Regions from separate parts of the Homo sapiens genome. Here all the other regions are reported to be linked to region 2. Evidence: microRNA targets listed by miRTarBase, many of them from high-throughput screens and not tested one by one. Region 2 holds a microRNA gene; each other region holds the end of a gene's coding sequence. Distances are between the middles of the regions.

Region 1 (7,071 bases), 64 Mb from region 2:
ATGATGACCAGTTTTGTAAGATTCAGGAAAAATTAGCCCAATTAGAGGTAAGATTGTAGCTAATTTAGGTTCACAGTATTTCATAGTTTTCCGAGTCTGGAAGATATGCCATCACTATCCCATCACTGTAATATATTGATGTTTTCTGTGTGCTCATGATTTAAAATTAAAACTCCTCCTTCATACCCTTTTATACCCTTTTGAAGAAAGGAAATATAGTAAACAGCAATCAATGGAAATACCAACTATGTATTGGCAAGAACTTGAGGTATTATCATATGGGAAGGTAGAGGGAGTGGAGGGGAGAAGTTATATGTGAGATAAAATCCTTCATCTGCCATAATAAGAAGTGAAGTAGATAATGTCTAAAATTGATGATCAGGAAATAGCAGTATAAGCATATTATTTAGAATTACAGAATTAAATACCAAAAGAAATAGATAAAAGTGTTAAAAGTGGTTGCATTTGGGGTACAAAGCCAAAGAACTGCTTGTATAAGCCTTGTAGTCTTGATTTCTTAAAAGCTATGTTTATGTCATATTTTGATTAGAATAGGAATATGTTACAAAAAAAGTTCGGGGTATTAGTGTGCTCATAAAATTGTTAAGGAAAAACATTTCAACTTTGAGAGGCTGAGGTAAGTGAATTGCTTGAGCCCAAGAGTTCAAGAGCAGCTTGGGCAACATGGCGGAACCCTGTCTTTACAAAAAATACAGAAAATTAGCCAGGTGTGGTGGTGCACACCTGTAATCCCAGGTACTCAGAGGCTGAGGTGTGAGGATCACCTGAACCTGGGAAGTCAAGGCTGCAGTGAGCCACGATCATGCATGCCACTGCACTCCAACCGAGTGACAGAGTGAGACCCTGTCTCAAAAAAAAAAAAAAAAAAGCAAAGCATTTCAGTGAATGGTTTGAATGCTGCTTATTACAAGGTGCTGTCCTGGGGCCTTTGAGAAATACCAGAGAGAAAAAAACAGATACCTGCCCAGAGTCTAGTGGAAGGGATAACCCTAGTATTATATGATATTAAATAATATGTAAATGCTAGGAGACAGATACAAATACCGAAGGAAGCACTTCATGTGGTAGAAGATTCGTCGACCACAGGCTCTAATCTCTTAGTTACTCTAGCTGGGACTTCCGCACATCTTGGTGAAGCTAAAAATGCTTTGGTTTACCAGAGTTTTCTGCAGAGGATAAGGATGAAGAGCAGAAGCTACCCTCTCTAGAAATCAAAGGTAGTGACAGGTCCCAAGTAGGAATTAGGAGCTAGTGAAATGATAGCATGACCTTCTATTTATCCCCGATTTACCTCACTTACGGAAACAGCCCTAAGGAAATGTGGGGCAAATTCTACCTTAATACTTCAAGTAGAAAATACACGACCACCAGATTCAGACCCCAGCAATACCACATCCAAGTTGTCTGAATTTGGACAACTTTTAGGAATTTTGTGAGCCAGAGTATCCTCATCTGAAATATATGGATGTAGGCAATGATACCTACCCTACAGATTATTGTGAGATAACATATACAGGGCACCCAAGTAGTACCCAGCTACATGCTCAATAAGTAATTTCTTTCCCCCTTTCCTTCCATTTCTCTAGAACTGTAAGATATCCAGGAGAGGAGATTAATCAGAGTGAAACGATTATTAGGAATTTTTTAAATAAAAGAAATAATAGTAAAACTGTGGGAACCAAGAAGAATATAACAGTGAATTCCTTAAATGGAGAGGACCTTGTTTTTTGTTTCTCCTTTGTAATCCTAACACTTGGTATATAGAAATTACTCAGTAAATTACTACTACAAAAGAGTATCATTGCCTACATCCTACATGTAAATGTTTGTTAAATGAATAAAGTAGTATTTAAGGAAATTCTCAACTAGTGGATTTTTTGTTTCCATAAATTTTTTAAAATTAAAATAATGTTTTCTGCTCCTGGCTCAAAATAATGTGTTGTTGTAATGCAGTTGGACAGTAAAAATACCAGAAATAAACATGCCTTTTTTTTTCCAGCTTGAAAATAAGGAACTTCGAGAATTATTGTCCATCAGCAGTGAGTCTCTTCAAGCCAGAAAGGAAAACTCAATGGACACTGCTTCCCAAGCCATCAAATAACTGAACTCTGAATGATGGCTGGAGATTGTCTATCAAGGAAGGAAGTTACTGTCTTCCCATTCAAGTACTGTCCATTAAGTGTCTTGCCTCAGATTTGATTTAATCTTAATTAAAGGTATCAGGTGGCAATTTAGAATTCCAGTCAATATTGGCTGTCCACAGTTCTCAGATGTGTTAATGTGAATACTACATGCTGAATTTCACCATTCCTTTCTCAAAGAGACTACTTTTAATTTTCATTTCTGGGACCTTGATTTATATAAACTATGTTTTCAGTTCTTTGTTATTTTTCACATCTCTGAAACTTTGAGCATTTTTTATAAGCCAGCAATTTATTTTACATAGCATTGTAAAATACACTTCTAGGAAATTTTAGGAAAGATTTAACTGTTTAAATCTATTTGGCATAAACCTTGATTTTTTTTTTCCATTTGACAAAAATAATACAATTCCACAGAACTAGATCAGCAGATTCTCTGATTTGTAATGTCATTCACCTGTGACATTTTAAGTCTCTCTGGTGCTAAGAATTGGCACTTTATAGCCTGGTGCCTTTACTTTTAATTTGAGAGAACCTACTGCTAGTCCCAGGAAACACACTTGGAAATAAGTCAGCTATTTTTTTTGCCCAGTGATGCTATAGTTGTCATATTGTCCAAAGTTCATATTGTTCAAAGCTGAGGAGCTTGTCCTGTGTATGTGAATGCACACATGTGCACTTAGTTCAAATACTAAAAGTAGCTTTTATTAAATATAATCAGCCAAAAACACACACAAAATAAAAAAAACAAATATAAGTAGTCAGTTTTTCAATGTTATCCTACTAGTTCTACATTCTATTTTAATTTTTATACAATTTCCATTTTATAGTTAAGAACCATCACTTACTTGGATTGGATGTCTTTCATTCCTAGCACTAATAGTTGGCTTTCTTTTTTTTTGTTTACATAGAAGCAGGGTTTTTTTTTATCTTTTTTCTTTTTTTTTGTTTAAGCTATATAAAAAGGTGAGGAAGCAGTTTTGTTACCTAATGAAAATTATTACACTCATAATGCTGTGTAGGCAACATTGAGATTCAAATGCCCAGTGGTCAACTGGGTTCACTCATCAACTCATTCCCGTCCCAGTTTACTCACATTTCAAATTTATAAATTTCTTCATGTTATACTATTCTATTTAGATTTGCCCAGAATTAGTTGAAATAATGCTAAACCTGTCAATATTTTCCAGTAACATTAAGCACCATACTGCATGGGAGAGACACAGTACTAAAAAGAGTTGTTAGTGCTTTATGTGAGTGATATTTCTTTCGTAATGCTATAAAGAACTACAGTTAAAATAACAAAATATTTTAAAGATGTCCTAAAAGCATCTGATCCCAGTAATAACTAATGGATGTCATCTAGAGCAGTGGGTGTTAATGAATAGGTATATGTCATTTAAGAATTTTTCAAATTTCTGTTTGATATCCTGCATAGAATTTGACAAAAAAAACACTTCCAAGTGTGAGCATTTTTTATTTCATTTCCCAAGAGTAAGTAAGTAACTATTAGCCCAGCCATCTGCCTCGAAGTATACCTTAAGTGACCCCATAAATCCATTCAAGAGGCAGGTACTCTATACCATTTGGCAGCCACGGCCAAACCTACCATGGCCAGATTTCAGTGAAAATGATGAAGTAATCAAATCAAGGTATAATATGGTGTCCCTTTATGTGCTTTATGTTCCTTTAGAGCTGTTTATAAAGTTCTTTATATCTCAAGTGTTAGGATAAATCGACATACTAACTTTTCCCCCTGCAAAATTAAAAGCCTGAGGTACAAGTCTAAGAAGCTTTTAGTGCTCTACATAATATAAATTCTGGCTGGTGTTAATGCTATGAAGATAATATGTAGTTAGAAAATTGAGTCGGGGAGGAATGCTCTTCATTTTAAGTGGATTTTAAAGTTTCTCCTTGAGTGGATGAAGAACTTGCCTGGTTTGCAAAAATCTTAGTTCAAAATTATATTTTCTAACAAAAACTGCATTTTGAGAAGATAAGCTAATTTTACTCAGTAGTAAGTCAAATGAGGAAGTGCAGAGGGTTTTTTTACATATATATAGCAACCTTGTCAAGTGGTCCTCACAAGAGTCATAAATACTTTGTAATTAGCACAGTATATTCAGCAGTGTATAACTCTACAAATAGTACCTTATATTAGTGTAGTATTATATCAATATCTTATGTATAATTCTTATATTAATACCTTATGCATAATTGGATTCAAACATTGAAGGTCTATTTTAGTGTTCTTCAAAATGTGCTTCCCTGACCTACTGAAATAGAAACTTGGTGATGAAGTTCAAGAATTTGTATTCTAATCATCTCAAACAATTCCTAAAGACACTGATTTTAAAATATCTAGTCTAGGCCCCATTGTGTAATAGTTAGCACTCTAAAAGATGAAAAAGAAAATAGTCTATGTGCCAACCACTTCATTAGTACTTATGAATTTAAAAATGAAAAAGTCTGGTACAGGAGACAAGTATATATATAAAATTATAATGCAGTGTGATAAATCCATTATAGTATGTATAAGATACAGAAGAGGGACTTTAAACTTGAGAATTCAATAGAGATAATAAATGGGTAGGAGGGAAATAGAAAACTTTGGTGCCACAAAAGCAAAGTATGTATGGTATTGCCAATAATAGCTACCATCTATTGAGTGCTTTACTACCTGTCAGGTACTGTATTATATAAACTCCATTTTAACTGTACCTCATTTTGCAGATACTCAGGCACAAGGAGGTGGTTATTTGTCCAAACTGGAACCAAGATTCAAACCCAGACAGAGTCTTAAGCACATTTTTAATCACTAACTAACTTGAGATGCCTAAATGCCAAATACTGTTGGGAGTTCAAGTGGTTCTTGATTAGCAAAATCTATTTTTATTAGTGCAAAAGAAACACCACAGCTTATAAAGTATTATGAATTCAATAAATGGAGTCTTAACTAATGAGATATTATTTTCTAGAATGGTGTAGCTGAGAGTATGTGTGATTCAACTGAAAGGAATAATGTTTAATCAGTGACTCTTACTATATACAGGAAAAGGTGCAGTTCTGTCTTTCAAATCTGCCTCCTTACCATATTGGCTTACATCCCTCATGCTGTTTTCTTGTGTTTGCTAGAAAGTTGTTGCCAAGCCAAATGTCATGGCCATGTTGAAGGCAAGGAAGAAAAAATGGAAATGGCCTGTGCCAGCTATATATATCGCCTTTTATGAGGGAAAGCAAAGCTTTCTCAGAAATCCCAAATGGATTTTCCCTTGACTTAATTGCCTGACCAGTTAAATGGCCACTGGTACCTGCAAAGAAAGCAGGGTACATAGCTGTCCCAAATAAAATCAGTATTAGCAAGAAGAAAGAATATTGAGAAAGCAATTAACAGTGTCTGTGACTGTGACATGTCTGTGACTTTATATTGTCAAGTCCTTTCCCCTTGAATATAGTTTTGGAAGAATTAGCTGAAGGAGTGTGTTGACATTGAATGGCCAAGAGAATGGGCTGTAGCAGACATCTGTCATTTCTCTTTTGGCTGCCCAGTATCCTAACTCCTGTGTTTAAGGAATCCCTCACCTAATGAGGCAGAGCATTTCTTCCTCCTAAAGAATTTGAAAGTACCAGGTAATGTTTTCTCAGCCTCCTTTTGCAGCTAAGGAAGAAACATCTGCCTTCAATTTTAAAATTAGTGATACAAAGAAGGAGGGAACCATGCAGATTCCTTTGAAGATGGTGATTAACAACACTACTGCATTCATCTCCACAGAGGTACAGCAAAAGTGATTTAGTTAGCGATAACCTCTAATTCTATTTTTTTATTTTTATTTTTTGAGACAGTCTTGCTCTGTCAACCAGGCTGGAGTGCAGTAGCACTGTCTTAACTCACTGCAACCTCCACCTCCTGGGTTCAAGCGATTCTCCTGCCTCAGCCTCCCAAGTCGCTGGGATTACAAGTGCCCACCACCATGCACAGCTAATTTTTGTGTTTTTAGTAGATGGGGTTTCTCCATGTTGGCCAGGCTGGTCTCGAACTTATGACTTCAGGTGATCCGCCCGCCTTGGCCTCCCAAAGTGCTGGGATTATAGGCGTGAGCCACTGTGCCTGGCCTGTAACCTCTAATTCTTGTTTGCTGGCTGTCCTAGAGATCCTGAGAATTACTTTTAATAAAATCATTTTTTTGCTGTTATTAAAACTAACCTGAATTGCCTAAAACCAAGAACTCTGCTTGATAAAATAAGCATAGTTTTAGGAACAGCCATGCAGATATAAATTTTATCAACACTTTATACATAATTTGGGACTTATATTTAAATGTAATATTTGATGCTTATAAAAGGGTAAATGGGGAATGCAAATAAATTATCAAGCATAATAACTCATCACCTAACTTAAGAATAACATTATGAGTGCTTGTATTTTATCTATTTGAGCTCTTCTCCTATCTTTGCCGACCCCCCCGCTCTCTTTTTAATAGATTTGTTCGAATGTAGAAAGACCTAAAATACATATGTATCCCTAAAGTGACTTATTTTATAGTTTTCTTTCTTTTTGAACTTCAAAAAAATTGTATCATACTCTATGTAGTCTAAGGATTTGGTTTTTTTCACTCAACATGTCTCTAGAATTCACAAGTTTTATTGTTTTATAGCTGTCATTTTCATTGATGTATATTTCATTGTTGGGTTATACAACATATTGTTAAGGAATACATACATATATAATAAATTATACATTTTTTAAAAAAATCCTTGCTAATATTTTACTTACTAATTTTTAATTCTCCCTTCCTGTGTCTCATTTATATTAAACACATTTAACTATAAGATGACGTATTTCACATTCTGCAGTTATTTCACTGATAATATCTCATGGCAACTTTCAGAGTGAATTAAGGGGTATTAT
Region 2 (7,071 bases):
GGAATTACAAAGCTGTCAGAAAACAATTAACAAATGGCAATAGTAAGTCTTTACCTATCAAGAATTACTTTAAATATAAAGGTTTAAATTCTCCAATCAAAAGACACAGAGTGGTTGAATAGATTTTAAAAATAAAACGAGGCCAGGTATGATGGCTCATGGCTGTAATCCCAGCACTTTGGTAGGCCAAGGCAGGCGGATCACCTGATGTCAGGAGTTTGAGACCAGCCTGACCAACATGGAGAAACCCCATCTCTACTAAAAATACAAAATTAGCTGGGCGTGGTGGCACATGCCTGTAATCCCAGCTACTCAGGAGACTGAGGCAGGAGAATGGCTTGAACCCGGGAAGCGGAGGTTGCAGTGAGCCGAGATCATGCCATTGTACTCCAGCCTGGGCAACAAGAGCAAAACTCCATCTCAAAAAATAAAAAAAAAAATTAAAAAATAAAACAAGACCAATAATATACTGACTACAATAGACTCACTTTAGCCTACATAGGCTAAAAGTGAATGGATGGGAAAATATATCCTTTGCAAATAGTAACCAAAAGAGAGCAGAAGTGGCTATACTTATATCAGCCAAAATAGACTTTCAGTCAAAATCTGTCACAAGAAACCAAGAAGGTCATTAAACAATGATAAAGGAGTCAATTCATCAAGAGAATATAAAAATTATAAATATATATGCACCCAATGTCAGAGAACCTAAACACATAAAGGAAATATTAACAAGACTAAAGAGAGAAATAGATAGCAATACAATAATAGGAGAATTCAGTATGCCACTGTTTTTTGTTTTTTTTTTTTAATTTTTTATTTTGAGACAGAGTCTTGCTCTGTCACCCAGGCTGGAGTGCAGTGGTGTGATCTCAGCTCACTGTAACCTCGGCCTCCCGAATTCAAGCAATTCTCATGCCTCAGCCTCCCAAGTAGCTGGGATTACAGAATTGTGCCACCATGCCCAGCTAATTTTGGTATTTTTAGTAGAGACAGGGTTTCACCATGTTGGCCAGGCTGGTCTCAAATTCCTGACCTCAGGTGATCTGCTTGCCTCGGCCTCTCAAAGTGCTGGGATTACAGGCATGAGCCACCATGCCTGGCCATATGCCACTTTCAACAATGGATAGATCATTCAGACAAAAAATCAATAAGGAAACAGTAGACTTGAATAATGCTATAAACCAAATGGACCTAACAGACACACATGGAACATTCCACTCAACAGCAGCAGATTTCACATTTTTCTCAAGAGCAATGGAATATTCTCTAGGATAGATCATATATTAGGCCATAGCACAAGTCTTAACAAATTAAAGAAGATTGAAATCACATCAAGTATCTTTCCTGAAATCAATAATATAGAACTATAAATTAATAACAAGGAAAATTGGAAAATTCACAAATAGTATTAATAGAAATTAAACAACATGCTCTTGAACAACCAGTGGGTCAAAGAAGATTTAAAAAACTGTCTTCAAACCAACAGAAATAGAAACATAACATACCAAACATGGGATGCAACAAAAGCAGTTCTAACAGAGGAATTTATAGAGATAAATACCTAAATTTTAAAAAGAAAGATCTCACAGCCAGGTGCAGTGGCTCATGCCTGTAACCCCAGCAGTTTGGGAGGTCGAGGTGGGCAGATCACTTGAGGTCAGGAGTTCATGGCCAACATGGTGAAACCCCATCCCTACTAAAAATACAAAAATTAGCCAGGCCTGGTGGCAGGCACCCTCAGGAGGCTGAGGCAGGAGAATTCCTTGAAGCCAGGAGGCAGAGGCTGCAGTGAGCTGAGACTGTGCGACTTTACTCTAGCCTGTGCAACAGAGTGAGACTCTGTCTCAAAAAAAAAAAAAGACAAACTAAGCCCAAAGTTAGCAGAAGGGAGAAAAATAACAAAAATTAGAGCAGAAGTAAATGAAATAGAGAACAGAAAGACAATTTAAAAGATCAAAGAAACTAAGAGTTGATTTTTTAAAAAGATAAACAAAATTGACAAACCTTTAGTAAACTAACCAAGAAAAAAAGAAAGATGACTCAAAAAATTACAATCAGAAATGACAAAAGAATAGTTACAACTGATACCACAAAAATACAAAAGATTAGGTGGATTCCACCAAACAGAGAAGAATAAACACCAATTCTTCTAAAACTTTTCTAAAAAAAAAAATCAAGAGGGAGGAACATTTCCAAACTCTTTTTACAAGGCCAGTATTACCCTTGCATCAAAGTTAGATAAGAACACTAAAAGAAAAGAAACTTACAGGCTTATACTGAACACAGATGGAAAAATTCTCAATAAAATTTTTGCAGGCTGAGGCCAGGCACAGTGGCTCACTTGGGGATGCCAAGGTGGGCAGATCACTTGAGGCCAAGAGTTTAGACCAGCCTGGCCAACATAGTGAAACCCGGTCTTTACTGAAAATACAAAAATTGGGCCAGGTGCGGTGACTCCCACCTGTAATCCCAGCACTTTGGGAGGCCGAGGTGGGTGGATCACCTGAAGTCAGGAGTTTGAGACTAGCCTGGCCAATATGGTGAAACCATGTCTCTACTAAAATTAGAAAAGTTAGCTGGGTGTGGTGGTGCACATCTGTAATCCCAGCTACTTGGGAGGCTGAAGCATGAGAATAGCTTGAGCCCAGGAGGCGGAGACTGCAGTGAGCCGAGATTGCATCACTACATTCCAGCCTGGGTGGCAGAGCAAGACTCTGTCTCAAAAAGCAAAACAAAACAAAAATTGGCTGGGCAAGGTGATGTATGCCTGAAGTCCCAGCTACTTGGGAGGTTGAGGCACAAGAATCACTTAAACCCGGGAGGCAGAGGTTGCAGTGAGCTGAGATTGCACAATGGCCCTCCAGCCCGGGTGACAGAGTGAGACTCTGTCTCAAAAAAAAATGTTAAATTAAAAAAATATATATTAACTGGCTGAATTCAACAGCACATTAAAAGGAGCATACACTATGATCAAGTGGAATTTATCCTTGGTATGTACGGATGGTTCAACATACACAAATCAATAAATGTAATAAACCACATTAACAGGATAAAGGTAAAAATCATATGATCATCTCAATTGATGCAGAGAAAGCATTTAACATCCTTTTATGATAAAAATTCTCTACAAATTAGGTATAGAAGGAAGGTACCTCAACATAATAAAGGCCATATATTACAAACACACAGGTAACATCATATTCACTGGTGGAAAACTGATAGCTTCCTTTCTAAGATCAAGAACAAGACAAGGATGCCTACTCTCGCTACTTCTATTTAACATAGTACTGGAAGTTCTAGCCAGAGCAATTAAGCAAGAAAAAGAAGTAACAGCCATCCAAATAGGAAAGGAAGAAGTGAAATTGTCTCTGTTTGCAGATGACATGATCTTATATGTGGCAGACCCTAAAGACTCCTCCAAAACAACTGTTGGAAATAATTTTAAAATTCAGTAAAGTGCCAGGATACAAAATCATCATACAAAAATCAGTTGCATTTCTATACACTAATAACAAACTATCTGAAAAAGAAGAAAACAATCCCATTTACAATAGCATGAGAAAAAATAAAATACTTAAACCAAGGAAGTGAAAGATTTGTACACGGAAAATTATGACATTGATGACAGAAATGAAAGAAGACACAAATAAAATGGAAAGATAGAAATTCTGTGTTCACGGACTGGAAGAATTCATATTGTTAAGATAGCCATACTACCCAAAGTGCTCTACAGATTCAATGCAATCTCAATGAAATTCCAATGACATTTTTCACAGAAATAGAAAAAAACTATCTGAATATTTATGTGGAACCATGAAAGACCCCGAATGGCCAAAGAGAACAAAGGTAGAGGCACACATTTCTTGATTTCAAATAATATTACAAAACTATAGGAATCAACAGTATGGCAATGGCATAAAAACAGACACATAGACCAATAGAGAGCCCAGGAAAAACTACATGCATATATAGTCAACTAATCTTTAATAAAGGCACTAAGAATACATAATAGGGAAAGGATCATCTCTTCAATAAATGGCATGAGGAAAACTGAATATTCTCATGCAAAATAATGAAATTGGACCATTATCTTACATCACACACAGAGTTAACTCAAAATGGACTAATTTTTCCACTAGTTAGTCCATTTCAAGTTAACTCTGTGTGTGATGTAGTCTAGAAACTCTGGAGGCTGAGGTAGGAGAATCACTTGAACCTGGGAGGTGGAGGTTGCAGTGAGCCAAGATCACACCAATGCACTCCAGCCTGGGTGACAGAGCAAGACTCCATCAAAAAAAAAAAAAAAATTACAAAAATTTGTAAGGCATGATGGTGGGAAGCTGAGGTGGGAGGATGGCTTGAGCCTGGGAGAAGGAGGTTGCAGGCCAGGCACAGTGGCTCACACCTATAATCCTAGCACTTTGGGAGACCAAGGTGGGCAGATCACTTGAAGTTAGGAGTTCAAGATCAGCCCAGCCAACATGGTGAAATGATGTTTCTACTAAAAATCCAAAAAAAAAAAAAAGTATCCAGGTATGGTGATGCACACCTGTAATCCTAGCTACTTGGGAGGCTGAGAGGGGAGGATTGCTTGAACCTGGGAGGTGAGGGTTGCAGTGAGCAGAGATCGCGCCATTGCACACTCCAGTCTGAGAGACAGAGAGATACTCTGTTTCAACAAAAAAGAAAGAAAGAAAGTCAAGCTATTGGAGAAACTGGACAGCAGTGTAAGTGTGAAATGTCTTATAGAAGAGTATTGTGTTGGAATGGCCACCATATAAGACCTGAAGAAACAGAAGGATAAGCTGTTGAAGTTCTATGCTTAAAGTGATGAATAGAAGTTATGAAAAATGGAAAAGCATAAAGCTAAAAATGAAGATCTCGATTATGTATTGAAAGAGTGGATCTGTCAGCATTGCAGTGAACACATGCCACTTAATGGTATGCTGATCATGAAACAAGCAAACATCTATCACAGTGAACTGAAAATTGGAGGGAGCTGTGAATATTCAATAGGCTGGTTGCAGAAATTTTTAAAAAGATATGGTATTAAATTTTTGAAGTTTTTTTGTGGTAAAGCATCTGCTCATCACAAAGCAGTAGAGAAATTCATTGATGAATTTGTCAAGGTCATCACTGATGAAAATCTGATGCCAGAACAAGCTTGTAATTGTCTAAGTACATTTTGTGTTGCTATAAAGGAATGCCTGAGGCTGGGGAATTTACAAAGTAAAGAGGTTTATTTGGCTCATGGGTCTTCAGGCTGCACAAAAAATACGGTGCCAGCATCTGCTTCTGGTGAGGCCCTCAGATTGCTTCCACTCATAGTGGAAAGTGAAGCGAGAGCCATCTTGTGCAGAAATCACATGGCAAGAGAAGAAGCAGGGGTTGGGGAGGTCCCAGGCTCTTTTTAACAATCAGCTCTCTCTAATAGAGTGAGAACCCACTCATGCCTCCTCCCCTCAGGGAAGCCATGAATCTATTTACCAGGGATCTGCAAACCCCCGCCCCACACTGCCCGATTCAAACACCTCCCATTAGTTCCCACCTCCAACACTGGTGATCAAACTTCAACATAAGATTTGGAGGGGACAAACATCCAAACTATAGCAATAATGCTAATGAGACATCGCTATTTTGGCATTGTTGCCCCAGAAAGACACTGACCACTGCTAATCGGACAGCTCCTACAGGAATTAAGGATGCCAAGGACAGAATAACTATGCTGGGATGTTCCAATGCAGCATGTATGCATAAGTTACATAAGTGTAAACTTGCTGAGGTAGGGAAAAGCTTGCATCCTCACTGTTTCCAAAAAGTGAATTTCATACCAATCTATGATTATATTAAGAAAAAGGCATGGATCACCAGGAATATCTTTTCTGATTGATTTCACAAACATTTTGTACCAGTGGCATGTGCTCACTGCTGGGAAGCTGGGCTGGATGGCAATTGGAAGATTTCATTATTCCTTGACAACTGTTATGCTCATTCTCATCCGCCAGCTGAAATTCTCACCAAAAATAATGTTTATGCCACGTACTTTCCCCCAAATGTGACTCCATTATTTCAACCACATGACCAGGGAATTCTTAGATAAGAGTAAATATAAAAACACTTTCTTAAACAGCATTCTAACAGCAGTGGACAGAGGTGTGGGTGTGGAAGGTTTTCAAAAGGAGTTTAGCTATGTATACTATATATGCTTTTGCAATGCTTGGCACACAGTGACTAAAGTCACTGGCCTGGCATAACCTGTGTCCTACAACTATGTTCAGTGATGATGATAAACAAGATGGTGACTCTAAAGGATTCCATATGTCAAGTTAGAATAAAATGATGCCTGACCTCCTTACATATGCAAAAAATATACTTTTGGAGTCTCTAAGTAAGCTGGAAGAAGTGAATATTGAAGACTTTTTAACATCAATACCGAGGCTCCAGTTGTTCATTCACAGATTTATGGTAAAATAGCGAAAATGGTTCTGAATCAAGGTGATTGTGATCATAGTGATGACGAAGATGATGTTGTTAACACTGCAGAAAAAGTGCCTACAGATGACATGGTGCAAATGTGTGATGAGCTTATTGAAGGATTTGAGCAGTGTGCATTCATAATAGAACAAGAAATCATGTCTGTTTATAAAATCAAGAGAGACTTCTAAGGCAAAAACCATGGTCAATGAAGCAGATTAATCTGGAGGAAACACTTTAAAAAGCCAGCAGATGCCCCCTCATCCCTAGAGGACCCACTTCCTGGTCCTTCAACTTCTTTTGATGTTTCTTCTCACCTAAAAAAAAGAAATACAGGCTGGGCGTGGTGGCTCACGCCTGTAATCCCAGCACTTTGGGAGGCCAAGGTGGGTGGATCACCTGAGGTCGGGAGTTTGAGACCTGACCAACATGGAGAAACCCCGTCTCTACTAAAAATACAAAATTAGCTGGGCGTGGTGGCACACCTGTAATCCCAGCTACTTGGGAGGCTGAGGCAGGAGAATCGCTTGAACCCGGGAGGCGGAGGTTGTGGTGAGCTGAGATCGCGCCGTTGCCCTCCAGCCTGGGCAACAA
Region 3 (7,071 bases), not on the chromosome of region 2:
GGCATCCAGAGTGTAGGAGCTGTAGAGGCCTGGCTGCCTCCACCTAGACTTCAAAGGATGCCCTGGAGAGCCTCGGGACCGAGGCAGAGGACTGCCACAGGGGTGGGGCCACCACAGAGAGCCCCCACTAGGGCACTGCCCAGTGGAGCTGTCATTGTGGTGGGGCCACTACAGAGAGACCCCACTGAGGCAATGCCTGCTTGGAGCTGTGGGGACAGGGTCACCCCCAAGAGCCCCGTAGAGCCACAAGCATACAACTCCAGCCTGGGAGAGCTGGAGGCACCTGTAGGAACTCCAACCCATGAGAGCTGCAGTGTGGGCTGTGCGCAACAAAGCTGTGGTGGCGGGGACACCCAGAGCCTTGGGGGCCCAACCGCCAACCCAGTGTGTCCAGAAGGCAGGACATCAAGTCCAAGATTATTCTCAAGCCTTATTAAGGCTTAACATTGTTTGCCCCACTGGGTTAGGACCTGTCAGTAACACTCCTTTCTTCCTGTTGTTCCCTTTTGGAATGGGAATGTCTATTCTATGCATGTCCTACCATCGTATTGTGGAAGCACCTAACTTGTTTGATTTCACAGGCTCACATGTGGAGGAGAACTTGTCTCAGGATGAATCGTATCTTGAAACTCATCCATATCTGATTTGGATGATGATATTCAGACCAGACTCTGGACTTAGACTTCTGAATTGACACTGGGATGAGCTAAGACTTTTGGGGCTATTAGGATGAAATCAGTGTATTTTGCATGTGAGAAGGACATAAATTTTAGGGAGCCAGGAAGTATCTGTGTCCCTCCAAAGTTCATTATGTTGAAACCTCATTCCCAATGCAATAGTATTCAGAGGTGAGACCTTAAGGAGGTGATTAGGTCATGAAGGCACAGCCCTCATGAATGAGACTTGTGCCCTTATAATAGAGCCCTATGAGCTTATTCACCCCTTCTGCCATGTCATGACACACCAAGAAGGTGTCATCTATGAGGAAAAGGGCCCTCACCAGACACTGAATCTGCCAGTGCCTTGATCTTGGATTTCTGAGCCTCTAGAACTGTGAGCAATAGATGTATATTGTTTACAAATTACCCAGTCTCAGGTATTTATTTTATCATAGCAGCCTGAACAAATTAAGACAGGCTAGTAAGAAAAGGTAGAGTTTAAGGAAAGGTAACTTTGATTTTAGACAATTTTTAAAGGTAAGACTAGAACTTAGAGATAACTAATTGGGAATCATACAGAGCAGCAGGCACGGTGGAAACACAGAGGAGAGGGGTACAGAGAGAGCAGAGGAGATGCCTCAGGGGACAGCCAAGGTCTCCAGGGCTAGGAGGGAGGAAGAGTTAGCAAGGTTAATGGAAGAGCTGCGGTCTTGAGTGATGGTGGTTATGGAAACAGCATCATTTCTCCATTCATTAGTGCAAAGTGCTCTATTTTCTCAGTATAGATTTCAGACTAAATCTAAAGAACCTATATTCAAAGACATCCATAAAAAAGACTACACAGTACACTGTCAAGTAAGAACGACAAAGGGTTCACTGGGTTTTTAATAGTCAAGGCTGGTACTAGACTGCAGACCCCAGGGAATGCTTTTCATGGCTGTATTAATGTATCAAGTTCTAAGTCAACAAATTGGCAGTTGCAATGACTTTTTTAACCAGAAATAATTATTAATGGGAAAAGCAAGTTTCCAACATCCCTATCCTTCCCACATTATGACTTCCATTGACAGTGATTTTTAAATATATAATTACTCAGAAAATGGATTAAAACCAGATTATTCACTGTCCGACACCAAATTTTTTCAGTGATGTTAAAAATTCTCTTTTTGGATAGTAATTTCCATCACTTGGAAAATAAAAGCCAAATACAGTATGATCAATCAAGAGTGTTGCTGGTCGCACTGAAAACTGTGAATCCAGGGGAGATACATGCCTTCTGGCTGGAGTTCCTCCCCAGAAACAAGGGGCAAGACCAGTACTAACAGCAGGAAAATGAAATTTCAACCCACAAGGCCCTCTGTGGTCAGGTGCCACCCAGTCCCAAGTAGTCAGTCTCTAAATGCTGAGACCTCTGAGAAGGCAGGAACTTTCTGGAACTATTGTGTTCATTTTAAACTTACAGATTCTGCTGGCTTGCATTTTATTTTATACTAACTTGCCTACTATCCCTTTAAACTGCCTGTTCTCTCCCTCATCTCTCTTTAAACGAAAAATAATATCCTATAAAACAGAGCAGACAGACAGCTGTGCACTACTGCGTAATCCATCTTTCTAAAATCCTCACACTTGACACAGAAGCCAACTCTCATTTTAGATGCTTGGAAATAGAATCAAGAGCAAATTCTAGCATTCTGGGTGGCTAGGTTGAAAGTACACATGGCAGTTCTCAGAAGGGTGATGGGGCCAGCGTCAAGAAATGCTCTGTTCTTACCGATCACACCCTTCATCCAGATCTTGACAATCACACAAACAAGTAGCCACGTGGTTCTTTTCCCCATTCCGATCTATGTACTCGCAGCAGCACAGGGGCTCCAATTCAGGTTCTTCGGTTTTCTTTTTCTTCACAGGCTTCATACTGCCCTTCTGTGTCATGATTTGCACCTGTCACCATGAGGCGTAAGAAGCCCTCAGAAGGTAAAGGTGGAAAGAACACAACTTACATCTCGTAAATAGGTCCACGCCTCTCTCTCTCTGCTTAACCTCCAACGCCTGAGCAATCAAAAATGAGAAGAGAGAGGGGGAGGGGGTCCCGTTTTCATCAGGCTTCTGTGGCTCCGCCTGGCCACACAGGGGGCTCCAGGGTTCTTGGAGGTCTGAGCTGCCTTCACCGCCCCTTCCCAGCCTGGGCAGGCGCCGTCTGGGCACCAGCCGTTCCTATGGCGACAGCCGACCACGCGTCCGGGACAGCCGGGGCGCGGGCGGTTGCGCTCACCTGCGGGTGCAGGCTGGGAGGGCCGAGCGGTCTCCGCTCCAAGCCTGGGCGCTGGTGGGAACTCAGCCTCGGGGCTATAGGGAAAGGCGAAGCATATGCCCGCTAGCAGCGGCTGACACACCAGGCTCCCTGGCAGTGCTCAGGGGTCGCGGTCCAGCCCAACTGGTCGGGCCCCTTGCAGGGTGCGCCTCTCCCGCCCCCGCCAATCCGGAGGACGTGGGCGGGCCTCGCGCACCACCCCGCCAGGAGAATGACCTTGGAAGGGAAGTTACCTGCCCTCTGGCCGGAGGTGCAACTGCAGCCAAAGAGGCGGAGGGGAGATGGGTCGGCTTCCCCGGAGGCACAGACGCGTCTCCCGATCTCTGCTACGCGGAGCCCCGGGCGTGACGGCAGGAGTCTCCGGGACCCGGGCTCCGCTCGGCCGCTCCCTCGCCGCAGCCGCCCACCTGTGACCACAGCCCGCCGCGGCCCGGGCGGCGCGCCCGCCTCCCCGCGCCGTCCCAACCGCCCCTCCGCCCGCCCGGCTCGGTGCGCCAGGTCCACGCGCGCTTCCGGGTGCCCCGCCCCCGGCGCCGGGGTTCCCCGCCTGTCCGCACGTGCGCCGCCCGCCTCCCCGCGGTGCCCGCGGGCGAGGCTCCTCCTCCTGGCCCGCGGCCCTGGCGCCGGGAAGGGGAAAATCGGCTCCCGAGAGCGCGTCCAGGAGGCAGGGGCAGGAGGTGGGTCCCGCACCTCCGGCCTGCCCCGCCACGCCACGCCCCGCCCCGCCCCAGAGGCGGCAGCCGGGCGCCGCCGGTGCCTGCGGGCGGCGCGCCGGTGGGACAGCCTCCGGAGCCCCGGGGTGCGGACGAGGTGCGGAGACGGAAATACGGGAAACCCGGGAACCCGGAGGATTTCCGAACTACGTGAGACCGTGGAGCCGCCAGCCTTCATTCAGACTCCGGCAACAGGCGGTGAGGGAGCTTTCCACCGCAAAATGTTATCCAAGTACCTCCCCCAGTTTCGCTGACCTTCTCTTAAAGGCCCATCACTGCTGCCGGATCTGTTCATTTAGCAACCTGTTCGTTTCATGATTTCTGGCTAGCAGCCTTTACATTGGACCAGCAGGCCTCGCTAGTACTTTTGTTCCAGTCGTCTGTGTATTTGAGATGAAACTGCCCTGAGATGAGAGTCCTTTTTGGGTTTTATTATTGCACAAAATTTCTTTAAAGAGTGTGGGCCCATGTACACGTTTCACTACCGCAGGCTTTCTAGTTTTGTTTTTAAGTAGAAAAAGAAGAAAAACTACAACTCAGAAATTTTCAATTTTATTAATATTCAATTTACGTAACAGGCTCAAATTTTATTAATTGAATTCTGCATCCATACGAATTTAGTCTTAATTTATAAAGCAACTTACTTCGATACTCTTCCTTGAAGTATGTTATAAAATACAACGTTTAAATAAACATCACAAAAATATTGTTTGTCGATCATTTTTGTGACTTTAACAGAGAAATCTTCAAGTTTATAATCCACTCATTCTTGCTTACAGCCAGACACTACATAAATCCTTACCAAAACAAAACAAACCCAGGTAGGTTCACTGTTACCCCTAGGTATGCTTCGTTGGAATTCACCCAGAGAAACCCATTTTCCCTCTAACGGAGTCAATACTTTCATTCTCTACAGGCATCTCAAAAATGACTATAATAATGCCATGTGGCTTTGGGGACTCTGGAGAAAAATGAAACATTTAATTAAAGGCAATAGTTGTTCAAACAGTAAGAATGTATACACAGTTTATATATAGATAGATAGATGGATATGTATTTTTTCCCCAGAGAAAGGGCTCAAGAGACAAAACAGTAAAACACTTCAACTTTCCCTAACTCTTGAAAAAATATCTGATTTTAAGTCAGTTTACAAAGTTCTTATTTTAATGAGCCACTTGTATGGAGACACATATGCATAAAAACTTTTTATGAAAGAGCCAAAGCTTGCATCTGAGTTAAAACTTGATAGTCAGTACACTTGTACTGGGACATACGTGCCCCTGAAGTTTTTATTAAAGAGCTAAAATCTATGTCTGGCTTATAACTTACCAATCAAAACAAGTCACACACATACATAAAGAAGGAAGCCATACATGGTTACTGAAAATACACAAATTATTTTCAACCAGATGTGTCACTTCCACCATGAAAGACTGCTAAGCTGAAGCCAATCTTAGTTCAAGTATGCATTTGATCTGTCACTAAATGCCCAGATTTTAACATAACCTTCTGGTTTTTAAAACTCAGAGGATGGTTCTTCCTTTTGACTGTTGGTATTCTAAGTGAGGAGGCAAGATAATCCCACCTCTGATAGTTACCTTAAGAAAAAACAACTATTTCTTTCATAAAGATACAGCATGGCAGAAGACCCTTTCTGATAATCATCATCAACATGCAGATTCAAAAAGTTTGACTATTAAATTTGCATGCTAAATAAATGAAGACATTATAATCTTTACAGTACACAAACCTGGAAATGTTATATGCCTGAAAACAGAACCTTTAAAATCAGTAATGACATAGAGGTTTCTTCTTATATTGTCCTGTTTATCCTCTTGGTCTTATCTCAGTTACAAAAGCGACCTATTGGACATGTACGGATTCTGTGCTAACAAAGCATCAGACTTCACTGTAGAAATGAGACCATACCACTCAATTCAGGGTGTGTCATTTTCTTTTTGTATCAGAGAAATTCAGTTCTATAATATATTTCATGGTTCACTGAAGAAATTCACAGCTTAAAAATATCTATAAGAAGTGAAAGGATGGATTATTAAGGCCAGCAGAAACTAATTATCAAATAAATGTTACTGAAAGAAATGTTCATATTAGAAATCTCAATAATGAAAAAACATAGAAATGTTCTATGCCAAAATCCTTCATTCGTCTGGTTTTCTTCCAGGTATTTTCTTTAAGTTCCAAGTATCTCTGCGGTTTTAGTCCTTCAGATCACTAGCTTTCAACAGCCATGCCAGTCTTATTCTTATTTAGTAGATCAAACGTTTTCTGAAGCATAATGAGTGAGCTCTTCAGCTGTAAACAAAGTTAATTTTCAAAATCAGATTAATTTTTCTAATCAGATTTGAAAATTTCTGTTTTTTATGCCCAAAATTTACAGTGACACTTAATATAGTTTTGTTTATACTGATGCCCAAATAAAACGTTAAATACAAAATACCTGATTCTTTGGGGTATCTATCAGTATGATTGCTACAGAGTTCTTCCCATTTGCTGGAGTATTGTACTTCTTCCTACTGCTACATAGTCTACCTCCCAATAGGTCCATTAATCAAATTAAGCGTAGTGACAGACTCGTTTTCCTAAAAGATTTCTGAAGTTGCAGTGGTCTCCTCACTATCCCCTAAACAACTCAAGTTTGCTTCAGTGCCTTTGCATGCTCTCATCCTCATGTTCTTCACCTAAAACTTACTCATATTCACACTCTTCATGTAGTTTTCCCCAGTCATTCTGCCTATAAACTCCCAAAGCATTATCCTTACTACTTAACACTTTGACACTGAATTTTGTAATCTTTGTCATTAACAATACACCTGGACATCTCATTTCTCTAAGAAAATTGTGTGCAACTCAAGAGCAGGAATTATGTCTTACTCTTTTTTTGTATTCATTCAACAAATATTTGTTGCTTGCCTATCACATGTTGGGCAGTGTTCTAAGCACTGGATATACAATGGAGAACCAAATAGGCACTGTCCTGTCCTTCATGGAGCTTACAGACTAGTCAGGGATCCAGAACTATTAATAAAACAAATAATCACATACATAAATATATACTTAGATATTTTATTAAGTTTTTGACTTGAGCAGCTGGTGGATGGTAGCATCATTTTCTGAAATGAGACCCACTAGAGAATTAGGTTTTGGATTAGAGGAAAATTGACTTCTGTTTTGGACATAATCAGTTTGGGAATCCTGTTAGTCATCCAGGTGAAGATGCCAAGTAGGCAAGTGACTGTATGAGTCTAGAGCTCAGGTCGAGGTGAGAGATACGGACTTGGGAGTTGCTGCTATCTGAACATTTGTGTCCCCTTCAAAATTCACGTTCAAACTGAATCCCCAATGCAACAGCATGAAGAGACGTGGCCTC

What was found. Region 2 holds the annotated microRNA hsa-miR-4424 (AGAGUUAACUCAAAAUGGACUA, at 4,108-4,129, shown strand). A microRNA usually pairs through its seed, bases 2 to 8, with sites in the 3' UTR of a target mRNA and lowers its output. Matches are read on the target gene's strand: a 7mer-m8 pairs with bases 2 to 8, a 7mer-A1 pairs with bases 2 to 7 and ends in A, and an 8mer does both.
Region 1: the mRNA of SIKE1 is a reported target of hsa-miR-4424. Seed matches in the 3' UTR shown: 8mer at 6,046-6,053 and 7mer-A1 at 6,542-6,548.
Region 3: the mRNA of GRAMD1C is a reported target of hsa-miR-4424. Seed matches in the 3' UTR shown: 8mer at 4,915-4,922.

Annotation. Positions count from the first base shown.
Region 1 is chr1:114,769,322-114,776,392 of GRCh38, reverse strand. It overlaps SIKE1 (suppressor of IKBKE 1), which reads left to right. Exons shown (of 5, transcript NM_025073.3): 4 at 1-47; 5 at 2,021-6,914. The coding sequence ends at 2,122. Among named protein-coding and RNA genes, the nearest start is that of SIKE1, 7.8 kb to the left of the region's middle.
Region 2 is chr1:178,673,656-178,680,726 of GRCh38, forward strand. It overlaps MIR4424 (microRNA 4424), which reads left to right and starts at 4,094; the gene lies at 4,094-4,179.
Region 3 is chr3:113,944,323-113,951,393 of GRCh38, reverse strand. GRAMD1C (GRAM domain containing 1C) reads right to left here. Exons shown (of 18, transcript NM_017577.5): 18 at 4,220-5,996. The coding sequence ends at 5,916. ZDHHC23 (zDHHC palmitoyltransferase 23) reads right to left here and starts at 3,381. Exons shown (of 5, transcript NM_001320466.2): 1 at 3,204-3,381; 2 at 2,431-2,708. The coding sequence starts at 2,591. RefSeq lists silencers at 2,799-2,898, 3,249-3,748 and an enhancer at 3,463-3,963.